Regions from separate parts of the Homo sapiens genome. Here region 2 is linked to region 1. The links come from fine-mapping of genetic effects on gene expression. A gene starts in region 1. The other region holds a variant in brackets. All regions are shown on one strand. Distances are between the middles of the regions.

Region 1 (8,328 bases):
AGGTTTTTTTTTTTTTTTTAAGACAGAGTCTTGCTCTGTCGCCAGGCTAGAGTGCAGTGGCGCAATCTCGGCTCACTGCAACCTCCGCCTCCCAGGTTCAAGCGATTCCCCTGCCTCAGCCTCCTGTGTAGCTGGGACTACAGGCACGCGCCACCACGCCCGGCTAATTTTTTGTATTTTAGTTGAGGTGGGGTTTCACCATGTTGGCCAGAATGGTCTTCATCTCCTGACCTTGTGATCCGCCCACTTTGGCCTCCCAAAGTGCTGGGATTACAGTCGTGAGCCACTGCGCTGGGCCCAGGAATGCTTTTTGATGGGGAAAGTCATTCTCTCTTCCTTTGTCTTGAAGCCACAGGTTTCTGGGGTTGGGGAGTGGAGAGTTCAAGAAGACTGAGGATTTGGTGGCCTTCATGCACTAAACAGAGCTGTCAGCAGGGGGCAACCAAGTTCACTGACTGGCCTAGTGCCTAGGAAGGAACCTCCTTGAGTTAGGATTGTCACATGGCCCAGTGTGGGTGGAGGGCCTGGGACTGAAGGACGGACTCTATTCAGACTCTATAAAAATACAATCAAGGTAGGAAGGGAAGGAAAGTGGATTAAGCTGTCAGGAAGAGAGGGAAACAGACAGACATACATGAATAGATGGTTTTTGTAATAAAGTCTGACTCCACTGAGGTGAGAGTTTGAAAAGGCAGGACTTGTTCCAGGGCTGGATCCTCCAGGTTCCAGCTTCTCCAGCCCCCCACCTAGTGGCTACTAGCTGTCATATTGTCTTTCTTACTCTCTTTATTCCTCTGACACACTGTGATCAGGCTGGCTGGTGGCCACTTTTGTCAGGGTGGCAGGGAGAGATTGAAACCAGTGTCTCCTCAGATTTCACGGTTCACATTAAGCCTTCTCTAATAGCCTGGCTAACAGAGTTGGCTGAGGGACTGGCTTGAGATAGAGTTCCTAGGGGCGGGAGCATCTTCTCTGGTTCTTGAACAGAAACTTGGATGCTGATGATTCAGAACCAGTTGAGGGTTGGCTTCCTCTCCAGTGCTAGAGCCCTGTGGGCCCAACCTACCCACAGGAAGAACCAGGCCTGATACTGATAGTGGGAGAAGTGCTAAAAGCCTGTTGGCAGGGGTAGGGTTGGGGAAGGAGGGACACTGCCTATGACTCACCCATCCCTTCCACACCCACACACTCATGCACAGATACTCTTCCTCTCCCTGGGCCTGAGTTAATGTGCTTACCCATCTGTCTGCTCAGCTTTCAGTGCAAAACCAGGACTTGATTGAGAAGAATCTGACACTCCAGGAACACCTGCGCCAGGCCCAACCAGGGTCTCCACCTTCACCAGACACGGCCCAGCTGGCACTTGAGCTGCACCAGGAGTTGGCCAGTTGCCTTCAAGATCTGCAGGCTGTCTGTAGCATTGTGACCCAGAGGGCCCAGGGCCATGACCCCAATCTCTCCCTGCTCCTGGGCATTCACTGTGAGTCCTCAGACCAGTCTGGGGCCCAGGAAGGAGGGTCCTTCTTTCTCTTCTCTCCCCCATCCTGCTTTCCCATATTCTTGTGGTAATATGTAGACAGAGTACATAGTCCTGGCCACTGCCCTCTGGACATTTATTTGTTTCACAAAGTAGGTGTTCACAAATCTGTTTTTGGAAACAAGCTATGGGGTACTTGCATGCAGGACAAACTAAAAGTGGACCTTCAGCAGCAAATTAACCCACTGTCCCCAGATGCTTTTTTTAAAGTGCATGTCCCAAGACTGTGGGTTCAAGATACTGCCTATCCATACTGCACCCTCCACATGAAAATGTCTCATAACTAACATTCTCTTGAAATGCTCTTCTCCCCAGCAGCACAGCACCCAGAGACTCAGCTAGATTTGCAGAAGCCAGATGTGATCAAGAGGAAACTAGAAGAGGTTCAACAGCTGCGTCGTGACATTGAGGACTTAAGGACCACCATGTCAGACAGATATGCCCAGGACATGGGAGAAAACTGTGTCACACAGTGAGGAATTCTGGGGGATTCCCCCAGGGAGGAGCTGGGCTGCTGAGAGCCTAGTCCAGCAGGTTTCTGCCCTGACATTCTCTTGTCTGCTATTCCCAGAGAGGTCTCAGAGGGGAGGGGAGAGCCTGCATCTGGGGGCCAAGGGCTGATTAGGGAACTGTGTCCTACCCACACTGGCATGTTGGATTACGTTTGTCCTGTTAATTCACTCTAGACGGTGAGTTACTAATTAACTTTTGGCAGGTACAACAGATAAGTCCTCACAAACTGTTCCCAGCCCTAGGCTGACATGAGAGACGAACAGGCTGTCCACCTTTCTTCTCCATCCAATGGGATGGATCCATGTTCATTCCCACTTCACACCTTGGTCCTGCTGATTAGAGAGCTCATCAGAGGGGCCTGGAAAGGCTGAGCAAGTACCAGTGACAATGGCCATTTAAGAATTCTCAGGCCCCATGTGCCAGCCTTCTTGGGAACTGAGCTGGCTTTCTGGGTTTTCTCATGCCTGGTCTTACTGCTTCTTCCTCAGGGCTCTTGTTCTCCCAGAAGCCTCAGGGTAATGTGTTGGTTAGCACGTAACTACTAGGATTGGGGCCCTAGGGATTATAGCCAGGACTCTAATCTGCCTACCATGCCATTTAACAAGAGATCCCACTCTCCAGCTGCCTTGTGTCCCTAGGGTCCTGGCCATGTGTTTAGTGTGCTAAACTTTCTCCTTTGTTCTCAGGCCTTCCAGGTAGTCCCCTTCCTGGACTTAAGAGTGCAAACTCTTCTCTGTGGTTCTAGCCTTGGGCAGAATTATATCCCAGAGACCACAGAGCAACTGTCAAGCTGCTTACCCCCTCACCCAGGGCTACAGCCTGTGCCCAGCCCTCTAATTTGTGCCTCTCTTGTGTTGGGGGTGGTGGGGGTTATTCCTTTCCCTTTCCTGCTCTGGCCTCCTTGAAAGTTCAGAGTACCCAGTACAAGTCAGCTTTAAAGTACAGCTTTTAGTGTTTCCTGGGTTGTTTCTCTGGGGCTTTAGTGAGGGACCTTTGCCCTCTGGTTTTTCTTGCCTCCTGGTTTAGGGAGCATCTCACACTTGTTAGTATCTGGTTGTTGGGCCAGCCGTGCCTCCTCTAGATCTGGAGCCAGGCCAGGCAGGGGCCACGTGTGGGCCAGTCAGCCACTACAAGATTTTTGCTAAGCTTTGGGCTGTTGGCAGCATCTTGGACCTCATGCCTGGGCCTGAATGAGGCTCTTTCTTAAGTGTTTTTACAAGTTTGTGTTTTATTTATGGAGTGACTTATCCCTTCCATTCAGAGCAGCCCCACCCAGCCAGCCCTTCAGCCTCTGGGCTCCTGCTGCTTAAAGGCAGAGCCGCCTGGTTGGTCTCCACCCTGTGCATTGGGAGCCCAGCCACCATGCTGACGGGTATTTTTCCTCATAAAGTTTATAACCAGTTATTTATATGAATCTTTGTTATGTCCATTTGTTTGTATTGCGTATTTTGATTATAAAATAAAGTATCTTAACAGACTCCTCAGTTTTCCATACCCTTCCATCACCACCACCACGCTATTCTACCCCTCACTTTGGCTTGTTAGAGCCAAACACCTGGGTGTTCAGCCAGGTCCCCCAGGCAGCAGCGTGGAGGAACCTTTGGCAGGTCCAGCCAGCCTCATGTCCCTATCTATCTCTGCCACCTCTGCTCCTCTGTCGTTCTATAGAACCAGATCTCTTCCCACTCACTTTCTCTTGGGCAAACCTTCCCTGAGTCATAACAGAAGTTTGTCACTGGAAAGTTTCAGCAGTCCTCTCAGGAAGTTGGCAGCCTCTGGGTTGCTGTGAGGAAGTGGCTTTACCAGAGCAAGGGTTGTCTTTCTGGGCTGTTAACCTGCCTGAGCCCTGGACCAGGGGGACATCTGAGAAGCATGATGTTGAGTGCCAGACAGCTAGGTCTCCAAAGTTGGGCTCGTTGCTGGAGTCTGCCCCCTCAACCGCTGAATTCTTGCTGGGAGTAGTAGCAGTTTGGGAATGCCATCTGCAGCATGGAGCTGGGGTTGAGCTTGGACCACCCCAAGACCTGGGGTGGATCTTAAGGGTCAGCTTGAGCCTAGGCTCTCGAGTCCTGACATCATCCTCTACCGCCACGCTTTCCAGCTGTCAGCCTTGGTCTCCATCTGGTTCCTTGAGGGTGTGGCCTCTGCGTCCTGCTATCACCCTTCCTTGTCTAAACCTTCCCACCTGAGTGGAGAGGAACTTGGGGGAAAATCTCTAAGCATGGGCTCTTCCTGCTGTCCTATGCTTCCTATCCCCTAGGGTTAGTGGTGCGTGTTGGGTGGTGGAGCGAGGGATCCCTTGGAGCAAGGTTCTTAGAGAACTTTGGGTCTGAAAGCAGCTCAAACCTTCCAAAGCCCCAAGCTTCCCTGTGCTATTAGAGCACCTCCTCCTGGAGAGAGCGGCTCTCGTGGCTGGGGAGTTGGATGCACCAAACCTGTGTGCGGCTGGAGAGGGAGGCTTCTGCCAGACCCTCTCCCGGGCCTGTCCTGCCACCCAGGCCCCTCCCCAGTCTCACACTGAGCTCCAGATCAGGGAAGGGCCGAAAAGGACGATCAGGGCAGCCGCAGAAGGGGCGCCCTGCGTGGGACGGGTCCGTTGCGCGCCTGGTAACCGAGGGGGAAGGGAAGGGGCCTCTGGCGTGCGGGGCGGTGTCGCGCAGGTCCCACCCCGCCTGCCCGCGCCGCCCATTGGTCCCGAGCGCGATGACTTGGCGGGCGGAGCAGGAAGGAAACCGCTCCCGAGCACGGCGGCGGCGTCGTCTCCCGGCAGTGCAGCTGCCGCTACCGCCGCCCTCTGCCCGCCGGCCCGTCTGTCTACCCCCAGCATGAGCGGCCTGCGCGTCTACAGCACGTCGGTCACCGGCTCCCGCGAAGTAAGTGCGCGCCCGGACTGGCGCTGGGGGAAAGCGCAGGGCTGTATCCCGGTGCTTTGGACCCTAGCGCCCGGGACCCACCCCCAGGACGGGGGCGGGGTGGGGGGAGTGCGTCGGCGAGGTGCTGGGCACGGTCTCCCGGACCCGGTCCCGAGGCCCCATCCTGAATGTCTTCATCGGGCATCCTGGGTCCTTTGCAGCCGCGGCATGAACTTCCCGTGCCCATCCCCCATCAACCCCACACCCATTCTCTGCACTCCCACTACCGGGCTGACCCTGACCACGACCGCAGCCTGCCCTCCCCTCCCCTCCCCACCCTGAGCCTGATCCCACTTCCCTTCACTCTGACCCCCTCCCCCGTGGCTGATAATCCCTCTCTTCATCCTGCACCACCTCAAGCCTGACTCATCCTCCCAACTCCTAGAGGCCAGAACCCTCCCCTAGTGTGGAGGGGAATGGGGGGACAAAAGCTCCTGGTCACAGCCTCTCTCACCCTGCCCAGCATTTCCCCCATAAATCCTCCAGCCTATCCACTAACCCCTACCCACCCTCTGTCCCCAGATCAAGTCCCAGCAGAGCGAGGTGACCCGAATCCTGGATGGGAAGCGCATCCAATACCAGCTAGTGGACATCTCCCAGGACAACGCCCTGAGGGATGAGATGCGAGCCTTGGCAGGCAACCCCAAGGCCACCCCACCCCAGATTGTCAACGGGGACCAGTACTGTGGGGTATGGGCTGGGGGACGGGGGGGTGGGGGGAGTGTTGGAAGAGGACTCTAGCCAGGGTCATATCTGCCACAAAGCACTTGGGCCCCCTGCATTCAGGTGACCACCCCTCGCCTCCCCTTCTCCAGGACTATGAGCTCTTCGTGGAGGCTGTGGAACAAAACACGCTGCAGGAGTTCCTGAAGCTGGCTTGAGTCAAGCCTGTCCAGAGTTCCCCTGCTGGACTCCATCACCACACTCCCCCCAGCCTTCACCTGGCCATGAAGGACCTTTTGACCAACTCCCTGTCATTCCTAACCTAACCTTAGAGTCCCTCCCCCAATGCAGGCCACTTCTCCTCCCTCCTCTCTAAATGTAGTCCCCTCTCCTCCATCTAAAGGCAACATTCCTTACCCATTAGTCTCAGAAATTGTCTTAAGCAACAGCCCCAAATGCTGGCTGCCCCCAGCCAAGCATTGGGGCCGCCATCCTGCCTGGCACTGGCTGATGGGCACCTCTGTTGGTTCCATCAGCCAGAGCTCTGCCAAAGGCCCCGCAGTCCCTCTCCCAGGAGGACCCTAGAGGCAATTAAATGATGTCCTGTTCCATTGGCACTGTGTCTGGTTGGTTGTGGCCTGGGCCTCCTGGGTCCCTGCCCTGGGCAAGGTTGGTAGTTGTGACTGTGCTGAGACTGCTCTGTGGGAAGGGTGGCTGAGCTGTTCTCTTGTGACTGTCACCTCTGTGTTTGTTAGTGCATGTGTTTGGATATGTCTGACACACAAATACCTGTATGGACCAGTGGTTTCTGGAGATGTCTGGGTGGGCCACCCTCCAGTTCACATGCATGTGTCCATATCATGCTTGTGCCTTGGTGTGTAGTGCACATCTCCATGCCTGTCAGTGAGTGTGGCCATCCCATGCGCCTGTGTTGGAGCACAATGGCTAAGAATGAGTGTATCATGGGAGGTGGGTACCCAGCTGCAGTTCTGCTAATTTGGGGGCATGGGTCTAGTGGCAAAATGGCTTTGTGCGGTGTTGAAGTGTCCCCACGAGTTGGTGGGTCTGTGCCTGTGCACAGGTATCTGCTGGCTGCACACATACACAGTGAGGCTCTGCTGTCCCAGCTGAGAATGTAAACCCAGCTGGGGCCAGCTCCTTCCCCCCACTGCATCCCTCCCTTCACAGGATCCACTTAGCCCTTCTTGGGAGAAAGAGGAACCTAGAAGACAAAGACCCAGCAGCCAGGCCCGCCAGCCGGGGCTCGAGTTACCAAGGGGCGGGTCGGCACCGCCCCCTCCCTGGCCCAGCTGGTCCCAGGCCTTTCCTACGTGCCTGGCGAGATGGCCCACCCAAGAGCCTGGCGGAGCAGCGGGTTGAGGGGGCGGGTGCTTTATTGGGGGCTGGGACTGGGTCCAGGACAGGGACTGGGGCCGGGACCGGGACCGGGACTGGGGCCGGGACCGGGACCGGGACTGGGGCCGGGACCGGGACCGGGACAGGGACCAGGACTGAATTTCAGGCTGGACTTCGGGGCTCGGCGTGCCCGCAGCAGCAGTGCTGCTTTGGGCACAAGGCCTGCAGCCTGCAGCGTGAGTGTATCGTCCTGGTAGAGGGTGGGCGGGAATGTGCTGAAGATCTCAAAGGCAGAGGCATCCATGACCCTGGGGACCAGGCAGAGCAGATCAGGCTGGGCAGTGGGACCAGAGCCCCTCTGTGGCCCTGGCCCTGCCCTGCACCCACCTGGCCTGCGCTAGCAGAGCTCGCACGTCCCCAATGGTGTTGTCAGGCTGCATCATCAGTAGGAAGGCCTGTTCCCCATTCTCAGACTTGATGCGCAGCATGGAGAGCGGGGGTGCCGGCGTGTTGGGTGACTCCTGGCTCCTGCACAGCCCAGAGGCCATCAGCACGCGGTGACCCAACGCCCCCAGGCCCTCACCTCCTCATCCCGCCCTCACCTCTCTCGCTCAGCGGCCAAGGTGGGCGTCTCCACCACAATCTCCTGGATCCGGGCAGGCAATGGGCAGCAGTTCTGGAAGGTATCAGTGGAGGGTGGACAGAGCCCTAGGCCCCATTTGAGTCATCCCCACAAACCTTAGAGGGACACTTCCTTGACCAGGGACAGATGAGACCAGTGAGCAAAGCGGGAGGGGGTGTTCTGTATAAACCAAGGCCAGAGGAGAGGCAATGGAAGGGGAAGAAGGTTCTGGGAGGCAGCCCCATGGTTCCCCCCAGGTAACCCCCCGTTTCAGTCTAATGGAGACAGAACCCCACACAGACGATGATCAGGCTGGAAGCCCACCCCAGCCTGGGGTCAGGGAAGGCTTCCCTCGGAAAATGACAACTGAGCTGTGACTGAAGGATGAATGGGAGTCCTTAGAAATGGAATGGATGCAGGGATATTCCAGACAGCATCAACAAAGATCCTGGGTTCAGGGAAAGCTTCCTAGAGGTGGCGACACATTTGGGCAACTGCCAGCATTATGTGTGGCTGAAGCTGGGGCTCAATTGGACTGGAAGGAAAAGGTTGGTGTGAGGAGGGGCCTGGCAATATAGGACGGGCCTTGAGTGCCAGCATAAGGAACCTGGCTTTATCTCAAGAACCACTGGAACATTTCAACAGGGAAGGCAGCCTGGAGGATGGTCAGCAGGGGCAGGAGTGGCAGTGGGAGGCAGCTGTCTGGGAGAGACACTCTGAACCCT
Region 2 (8,328 bases), 40 kb before region 1:
CTGTCTGTGTATCCCTTCAAATCCTCTCTTGTCTTGATGTGGTTCTCTTAACAGCTGCCAAGCATGATGTTCCACACTTAGATTGTAATTCTTTTTTTTTTTTTTTTTTTTGTGAGACGGAGTTTTGCTCTTGTTGCCCAGGCTGGAGTGCCGTGGCGCGATGTCGGCTCACCGCAACCTCCGCCTCCCAGGTTCAAGCGATTCTCCTGCCTCAGCCTCCCGAGTAGCTGGGATTACAGGCATGCGCCACCATGCACGGATAATTTTGTATTTTTAGTAGAGACGGCGTTTCTCCATGTTGGTCAGGCTGGTCTCAAACTCCCGACCTCAGGTGATCCGCCCGCCTCGGCCTCCCAAAATGCTGGGATTACAGGCGTGAGCCACCACGCCCGGCCACACTTAGATTGTAATTCTTATAGGGGAAAAATACTTACGGCAGTCAAAATCTAATTCTTGGGTAGCAACTTGAGAAATAAAGCCTAGGTGATGACCAAGGACAAAGTGAAGAAATTTTATGAGCTTTTACTGCTCATATAATTGAGGCTTGCAGCTCTAGCTGTCTGAGGCAGAAACTCCAACTTGTGGTGCCATGCTTGATCTCTTTTTTTGTGTTTTGTCACATGTAGAATGCTGACTAGACTACTGTAGCGTTAGAGTACAGTCCTGGCTTTGAAGCCTCTTCCTAGCCATATGACCTTCACTACTGTAAACCTTTATTTTCTCATCCATAAAATGAGGATAATAGTAACTGCCTCATAGGGTTGATGTGAACATGAAACATGAGACATGATACTTAAAAAGTGTTGAGCACAGTGTTTGATAGGTAGTAAGTGCAGAATGCATGTTAAATTTGTTGAATGAGTGACTGTTTCTGTAGTTTAAAGGGCTTTGAAGATGGAAACCAATCCTGTTGGGTGCTTTTTTTTTTTTTCCCCTCTGTCTGCCTCCATTCACTCCCTTTCTAAGCTTTATAACTGGTGTGTTACTTCTTGTACATTCACTTCTCTCATTTTTATCCCAGGAAATTTCTGTCTCCTTCAGTTGTCCCAAAAATTTCCACCAGTAGCTCATCTAATTCTTAAGTCAAGAATGATTTATTTTGTATTGTTTTACTCCTTACGGGGTTTCTTTCTTTCTGTTTTTCTTTTTTGAGATATTTGTTGTCAATGAGGGTCAGACTCTGAAATATTTGAAGGGATTTATTCTGAGCCAAATATGGGTGACCAGTGGCCCCTGACACAGCCCTCAGGTGATCCTGATAACGTGTGCCCTGGTTTTAAACATTTTAGGTAGACATGAGACATCAGTCAAATACATGTAAGATTTACATTGATCTGGAAGGGTAAGACAACTCTTAGTGGGTGGGGGCTTCCAGGTCATAGGTAGATTTCAAAATTTTCTGATTGGCAGTTGGTTGAAAGTTGTTATCAATAGAAAGGAATGTCTGGGTTAAGGTATCCTGGGGATCAACATTTTATTGTACAGATGAAGCCTCCAAATAGTAGGCTTTAGAGAGAATAGATTATAAATGTTTCTTACAGACATCTGTGTTAATGTTAATGCTTTTCCTAAATTCCAGAAGGGAGGAGGGTATAATGAGGGGTGTAGGACTCCACCACCACTACCACCATCATGGCCTTAACAGGTTTTTCAGCTTAACTTTGGAATGCCATTGGCCAAGGGGAGGGATCCATTCAGGTGGTTGGGGATGTCTTAGAATTTTTTTTTTGGCTTATATCACATAACATAAAATTTAATTTTATGTGTGTGCAATTCAGAGGTTTTTAATATATTGGCAAGGTTGTGCAGTCAGTCACCACTATCTAATCTCAGAACATTTTGATCACCCTGAAAAGAAACCCGGTATCCATTAGCAGTCCCTTCCTATTCTCCTACCCTCCCTCCTCTCAGTCCTTTGCAATCACTAATCTGTGTCTCTATGGATTTGCCTATTCTGACATTTCATATAAATAGGATCAAGCCTTTTGTTTGGCTTCTTTGACTTTGCATGTCTTCAGTGTTCATCCATGTTGTCACATGTATCAGTACTTCCTTTTATTGCTGAATAATACTCTGTTTTTTGGATATACCACATTTTATGTATCCATTCATTAGCTCATGGACGTTTGTGTTGTTTCCACTTTTTGGCTATTGTAAATAATGCTGCTACGAACATTCTTATTGAAGCTTTTGTGTAAACCTGTGTTTTCATTTCTCTTGGGTGTATACTTCAGTGTGGAATTGCTGAGTCATAGGGTAACTCGGAGTTCTCCTTCTGTCACCGTATTTTCAACTTGTCTGAATTTAGAAACACCTTAGAATCCAGTGCGCCTACCATTTTGTTATCCTTTAAAGAAAGGAGTGAAGAAAAGGATTTTGATATTGACAAGAAAGGAAATCACTAGTAAGGAGGTAATCTAATCATTCTATGTCATCATTTAACTCACTGAATCATACTTGCCATAAACTAAAGCTTTTATTACTGAACAAAGCTTCCCTCACCCAGTATGTGAAGAACTGGAATTGTGGAGGATGATACCCTTTCTATTGTAGATGCAGTGAATTAATAAGGGTTTGGGTTGTTATGTACTTTAGTGACCTCTATAGTATTCTCTTAGTAACAAGAGAATACTATAGAGGTCACTAAAGTACATTAGAGAAATAGTACCATATAGTCTTTTTTCTCCAGAGTGATAGAATTATGTTCTGTGAATTGTCCCAAACTCTTTTTTTTTTTTTTTTGAGACGGAGTCTTGCTCTGTCGCCCAGGCTGGAGTGCAATGGCGCGATCTTGGCTCACTGCAGCCTCCGCCTCCATGGTCCAAGCGATTCTCCTGCCTCAGCCTCCCAAGTAGCTGGGATTACAGGCGCCTGCCACCATGCCTGGCTAATTTTTGTATTTTTAGTAGAGACGGGGTTTCACCATGTTGGCTGGTCTCGAACTCCTGACCTCAGGTGATCCGCCTGCCTCGGCCTCCCAAAGTGCTGGGATTACAGGCGTGAGCCACTGAGCCCGGCCGAATTGTCCCAAACTCTTTTGGGGCTTTTATAAATTTAGAGTTTCTGAGTTGATACTCCTTGATCTTCCATGGGCTGTACAGTGCTACTTTTGTTGATGTAAATTGCCAAGTAATAACAGCACTTAGTATGTGTCAGGAACTGTTGTAAGTTAATTATAAGTGAATTAACATGAATTAGGTTGTGTTGTTATCCTCATTTTTATATGAAGAAAATGAGGAACAGAGATACTAAGAAATTTGCCCAAGGTTACACAGCTAATAAATTGATAACTTAATGTTTAGTGGGTTCAAGTGTATTTGTTTAGACTTCAAATCCACTTCTGCTGAATTCTCAGCACCTACCCCTAGTGTACTGTAAATATAAATATTTTAAGGAGTGAGAACATGGGACGAGAACTTCACGTTCCTAGCTCAGGATTGGAGTTCTACTTATGAGCAAGAATTCTTTCCCATCTTTTTACATCGTATGACTGACTTTAATTACTGGAAGAATTGAGGAATTTGTTTTGTGTTAATCATAATTGATGCTGTAATACTTCACTGTTGGTTTAGTTCTTTAGTTCTTTATCCACCTCGTCCTGTCATCAGGTCCCCATGGCTAAGAAGATTCATGGTAAAGTTTGTTAATTAAAAGTAATATTTTTAAATTTTATAAAAATCAGAAGGGTTCTAGGACCGTATGGAATCTGTATTGGTAATCTCTGGTTCTAGGTTTTCTATACTGGATTTGGGAAGAGAAGTAGAGTGGAGTATTGGGATTTACTTTGTCTTAAAAATATCCTTAGAAGTAAAACATGTAAAAACATATTTACTCCTAAATATCCTTAGGAATATAACATTTAGAATACTGGAATATTCTTTTTTATTTTTTTTGAGATGGAGTCTTGCTCAGTTGCCCAGGCTGGAGTGCAGTGGTGTGATCTTGGCTCACTGAAACCTCTGCCTCCCGGGTTCAAGCAATCCTTGTGCCTCAGCCTCCCAAGTAGCTGGGACTACAGATGTGTGCCACCATGCCCGGCCAATTTTTGTGTTTTTAGTAGAAATGGGGTTTCCCCATGTTGGTCAGGCTGGTCTCGAACTCCTGACCTCAGTTGATCTGCCCGCCTTGGCCTCCCAAAGTGCTGGGATTACAGGTGTGAGCCACTGTGCCTGGCCAAATACTTGAATATTCTATATGGTTTTGACAGTTTCAGTTGAAT[G/A]GGAACTGAGTTGCGGGGAATTAAAGATACTTCAGAGAACTGACTGGTTATTCCTTCATTCTACAGTTGGCTTAAATAACTGTGATTGATGGCCATGCAGGAGAAATATCCAACTGAGGGGATCTCTCACGTCACTTCACCGAGTGAGTAGTCAGAAGTTTTCTGGGTTAAATTCTGACCTTTGTTCTGTTTTTTCATATTCCTTAAGGTAAATATTGAACAAACAAGCATTCACTGAAATGCTGGTGCTAAAAGAATAAAAATAACATGGGGCTTCATTGAATATAAAAACAGGTCTCTGAGGGAACAAGTATTTATCTCTTGTGCTATGTGGCTTTCAACAGGACCACGTGGTTGGGAGAGGACGACATATAAAGGATTGGAACAGAATGACTTTGGAACATAGTTCCATTTGAAATCAGAAAAACACAGCATAAATTACTGTGTTCTATGTTGTCTTTGTCCTCTGGGTGGGTCAGTCATCTGCTAGCCCACAAAAATAGGAATTCTGCTTGGATGCCAACAGATTCCGTTGCATTGTTACTAGAAACTCAGGAATTTATCTTCAGAATGGATTAACAAGATTTTGAAACTTCAGTAGATATATTAAATATATACAGTCCTTAAGTGTCCATGGCGGACTGGTTCCAAGACCTCCTGCAGATAGCAAAATCCACAGATACTCAAGTCCCTGATATAAAATGGTGTGGTATTTGCATATAACCTGTGTATATCCTAATGTTTACCTTAAATCGTCTCTAGATTACTTGTAATACCCAATGCAATGTAAATGCTATGTAAATAGTTATACTGTATTGTTTGGGGAATAAGAAGAAAAACAAGTCTTATGCACATTCAGTAAGATACCATTAAAAAAAAAAATTGGTTGAATTCACAAACGTAGAAACCACGGATATGGCCAGGCGCTGTGGCTCATGCCTGTAATCCCAGCACTTTGGGAGCCCAAGGCGGGTGGATCACCTGAGGTCAGGAGTTTGAGACCAGCCTGGCCAACATGGTAAAACTCCATGTCTACTAAAAATACAAAAATTAGCCGGGTGCAGTGGCATGTGCCTATAATAATCCCAGCTACTTGGGAGGCTGAGGCAGGAGAATCACTTGAACACGGGAAGCAGAGGTTGAGGTGAGCTGAGATGACGCCACTGCACTCCAGCCTGGGCAACAGAGTGAGACTGTGTCTCAAAAAAAAAAAGGGGAAAAAAAAGAAACCATGGATATGGAGAGCTGACTGTATATTAAACACATAAATATATGTATGCACTGTGCAGGCATATTAAGTAGATAATATATATTTCAAATAAGTAATATTTTAGAAAAATGACTTGTTGAATTCTGGGGTATTGGTAAAGAAGAGGGCACGTTTAATTCAACTCAGGGTATGTTTTATTTAACTTTAAAATCTCACAGTGCCTTACTCAGCGTAGATATTTGGTAAATGTTTGGTGTATTCTCTTAGGCATGCTGCCTTGCATAGAGTAGGCACCATTATAAGCTTTGGTTGAATCAATTCAAGATTCATTCAGCAGAATTTTTTTTTTTTTTTTGAAATGGAGTCTCGCTCTGTCACCCAGGCTAGAGTGCAGTGGCGTGATCTCGGCTCACTACAAGCTCCGCTTCCCGGGTTCATGCCATTCTCCTGCCTCAGCCTCCCAAGTAGCTGGGACTACAGGTGCCCGCCACCATGCCCAGCTAATTTTTTTGCATTTTTTAATAGAGACGGGGTTTCACCATGTTAGCCAGGATGGTCTCAATCTCCTGACCTTGTGATCTGCCCGCCTGGGCCTCGCAAAGTGCTGGGATTACAGGCGTGAGCCACTGCACCCGGCCTCAGGAAATATTTTTTAAACATCTGCTATGTGCTGCACATTCTCTTAGGTTTGTACAGTTTCTATGACAATTATGTATATAATGCAAGTTTTTGGAACAATGCCTTTCCTATGGCTTTTTTCTCTCTTCAATAGTATCTCATTCAGATTAATAATGGTCTTAATAATTGATAAGGATGCTACTGATAGGACATGCACTATAACACAAAAAATTTCAGCTTTTCTTTTTTTTTTTTGGAGACGGAGTCTTGTTCTGTGGCCCAGGCTGGAGTGCAGTGGCACAATCTCAGCTCACTGCAACTTCTGTCTCCTGGGTTTAAGTGATTCTTGTGCCTCAGCCTCCCAAGTAGCTGGGATTACAGGCATGCACCACCACACCTGGCTAATTTTTTTGTATTTTTAGTAGAGACGGGTTTCGCCATATGCCCAGGCTGGTCTCCAACTCCTGAGCTCAGGTAATCTGCCCACCCCCGCCTCCCAAAGTGCTAGGATTACAGGCATGAGCCACTGCACCCGGCCAACTTCAGCATTTAAACTTCAATTTTGAAATAAGTGTAAACCTCTATAAATATACCAAAATATATTTTTAACAAATAACTCTTTGGAATTAGGGTATGGAGTAGGTGGATGGAAAAATGGTAGCGATGAAGAGTGGAAGATTAGTAGTAGTAACAGGGAAGCGGTTTCCAGTAGGAAGTCAGGAAGATGGTAATAGAGGCCCTCAATCTTAACTGTTTCAAAAGGCCTGGCAAATTTTACACTGACTAGAGAGAAAAAGCTGTGTAGACTCACCAGAAGGTGGGATTTCTTTGCTTTGGGCTAGAATTACACCAACTTAGTATAGTAGCATTGGCTAATCTCATGCCGCTCAGAAACTCGGATTGTTGCCTGTGTCTTCTATAACAATTACAGATTACTGAGTGTATAAAGATTCTTTCAAATCAGGCAGTCACTGTGATCCAAAGAATAGAAGAAGTATTTGGGGAAAGTCAGGTTGCCTTCAGTAGAAAGCCAAAGTAAGGGTAGCAAAAAATGAGCAAAAGTAGAAGAAAATAGATTAAAAAGATGAGAGAAGCACTAAACTTGGAAGAAAGGAATAAAGTAATTTGTGTCCAAATTACTTTGGGCGTAATCATTTAGTGGGAGCAATCATTTGCCTCCCACTAGATCAGCGAGTCTGTAGAACCGTATTTTCTGAAATCGGCTTTCACACTTTAAGTTAAATGGAGGATAAGTAGCTGCCATTAGTTTTTTTGTTTGTTTGTTTATTTGTTTACATGGATCACCAGATACACCTTAGGAAAATTATAGTGGTTTTTAGAAAATAAATTTAAGTCTTTGCTAGAATGTTAGTGAATCAAGTATTTATTGAACACTTCCTACCTACCTCCCCCCAAACAGCATATTTTAAATCAAATAAATCTCATCAGTCTTTTTGTCTTAACCTTCTCAGCAGTTTTAGTGATATCTTCACGTTGCTCTCAAGATAAAGCCCTAGGCTCTTCAGATTGACTTTCAAAACTCACCTTGATCTCAATAGGATTCACCTATTGAGGGTACCCTGGTTCAGTGAAGCAGTGATTTTCTTTTTTTTTTTTTTTTTTTCTGAGATGGGGTTTCGCTCTTGTTGCCTAGGCTGGAGTGCAGTGGCGCAATCTTTGCTCACTGCAACCTCGAAGCAATGATTTTCAACTGGGGACTGGACTGCTTGTTGCCCTAGGAATCATTTGGAACTATATGGTTATTTTCTGGTTTCACAGTGATGGTGGTCTTGGTTGAGGGTTGCTGCTGGCATTCAGTGAGTGGGAACCAGGGATGCTAAACCATTCTGTAATGTATAGACTACACATTGAAGAATGGTCATCCCCAGAATGCCAAAAGCACCATTGAGAAACTGTAAGAAAGAGGAAAGAATGTGGGTTTTGGAATCAGAAAGAACTGGATTCAAATATCAGCCCTCCCCTCTGTAAAATAGGGGTGGTAATACTTTTCAGTAAGTAGGTAGGCAAGATTATGTTTGTAAGGTCCTGTGGCTTTACAGGTTTCAATAAATGGCCACTGCTATTAAATATGATTGTTTTCTGTTCCAGTACTCCTGGATTCTTCATGGGTCTTATTAACATCTTTGAATATTCTCACTTCTCATACTATTTCCACTTAAAATTAACTAGCTCAGGCTTGGCGCAGTGGCTCACACCTGTAATCCCAGCACTTTGGGAGGCCAAGGCGGGTGGATTATGAGATCAGGAGTTCAAGACCAGC

What was found. PIP is the estimated chance that this variant, and not a neighbour inherited with it, causes the effect.
Region 2: its variant is fine-mapped to the expression of SH3BGRL3 in whole blood (TOPMed, PIP above 0.99).

Annotation. Positions count from the first base shown.
Region 1 is chr1:26,275,281-26,283,608 of GRCh38, forward strand. It overlaps SH3BGRL3 (SH3 domain binding glutamate rich protein like 3), which reads left to right and starts at 4,806. Exons shown (of 3, transcript NM_031286.4): 1 at 4,806-4,923; 2 at 5,485-5,652; 3 at 5,778-6,242. The coding sequence starts at 4,876. The coding sequence ends at 5,843. It overlaps CEP85 (centrosomal protein 85), which reads left to right. Exons shown (of 14, transcript NM_001319944.2): 13 at 1,255-1,480; 14 at 1,856-3,528. The coding sequence ends at 2,013. It overlaps UBXN11 (UBX domain protein 11), which reads right to left. Exons shown (of 15, transcript NM_001389556.1): 13 at 7,584-7,657; 14 at 7,369-7,509; 15 at 7,002-7,289. The coding sequence ends at 7,019. RefSeq lists enhancers at 577-1,776, 4,327-5,214, 5,215-6,101 and silencers at 4,590-5,161, 4,638-5,087.
Region 2 is chr1:26,235,477-26,243,804 of GRCh38, forward strand. It overlaps CEP85 (centrosomal protein 85), which reads left to right. Exons shown (of 14, transcript NM_001319944.2): 2 at 4,286-4,362. The coding sequence starts at 4,308. Among named protein-coding and RNA genes, the nearest start is that of CEP85, 5.4 kb to the left of the region's middle. The variant G/A (reference allele first, on the strand shown) is at 4,220.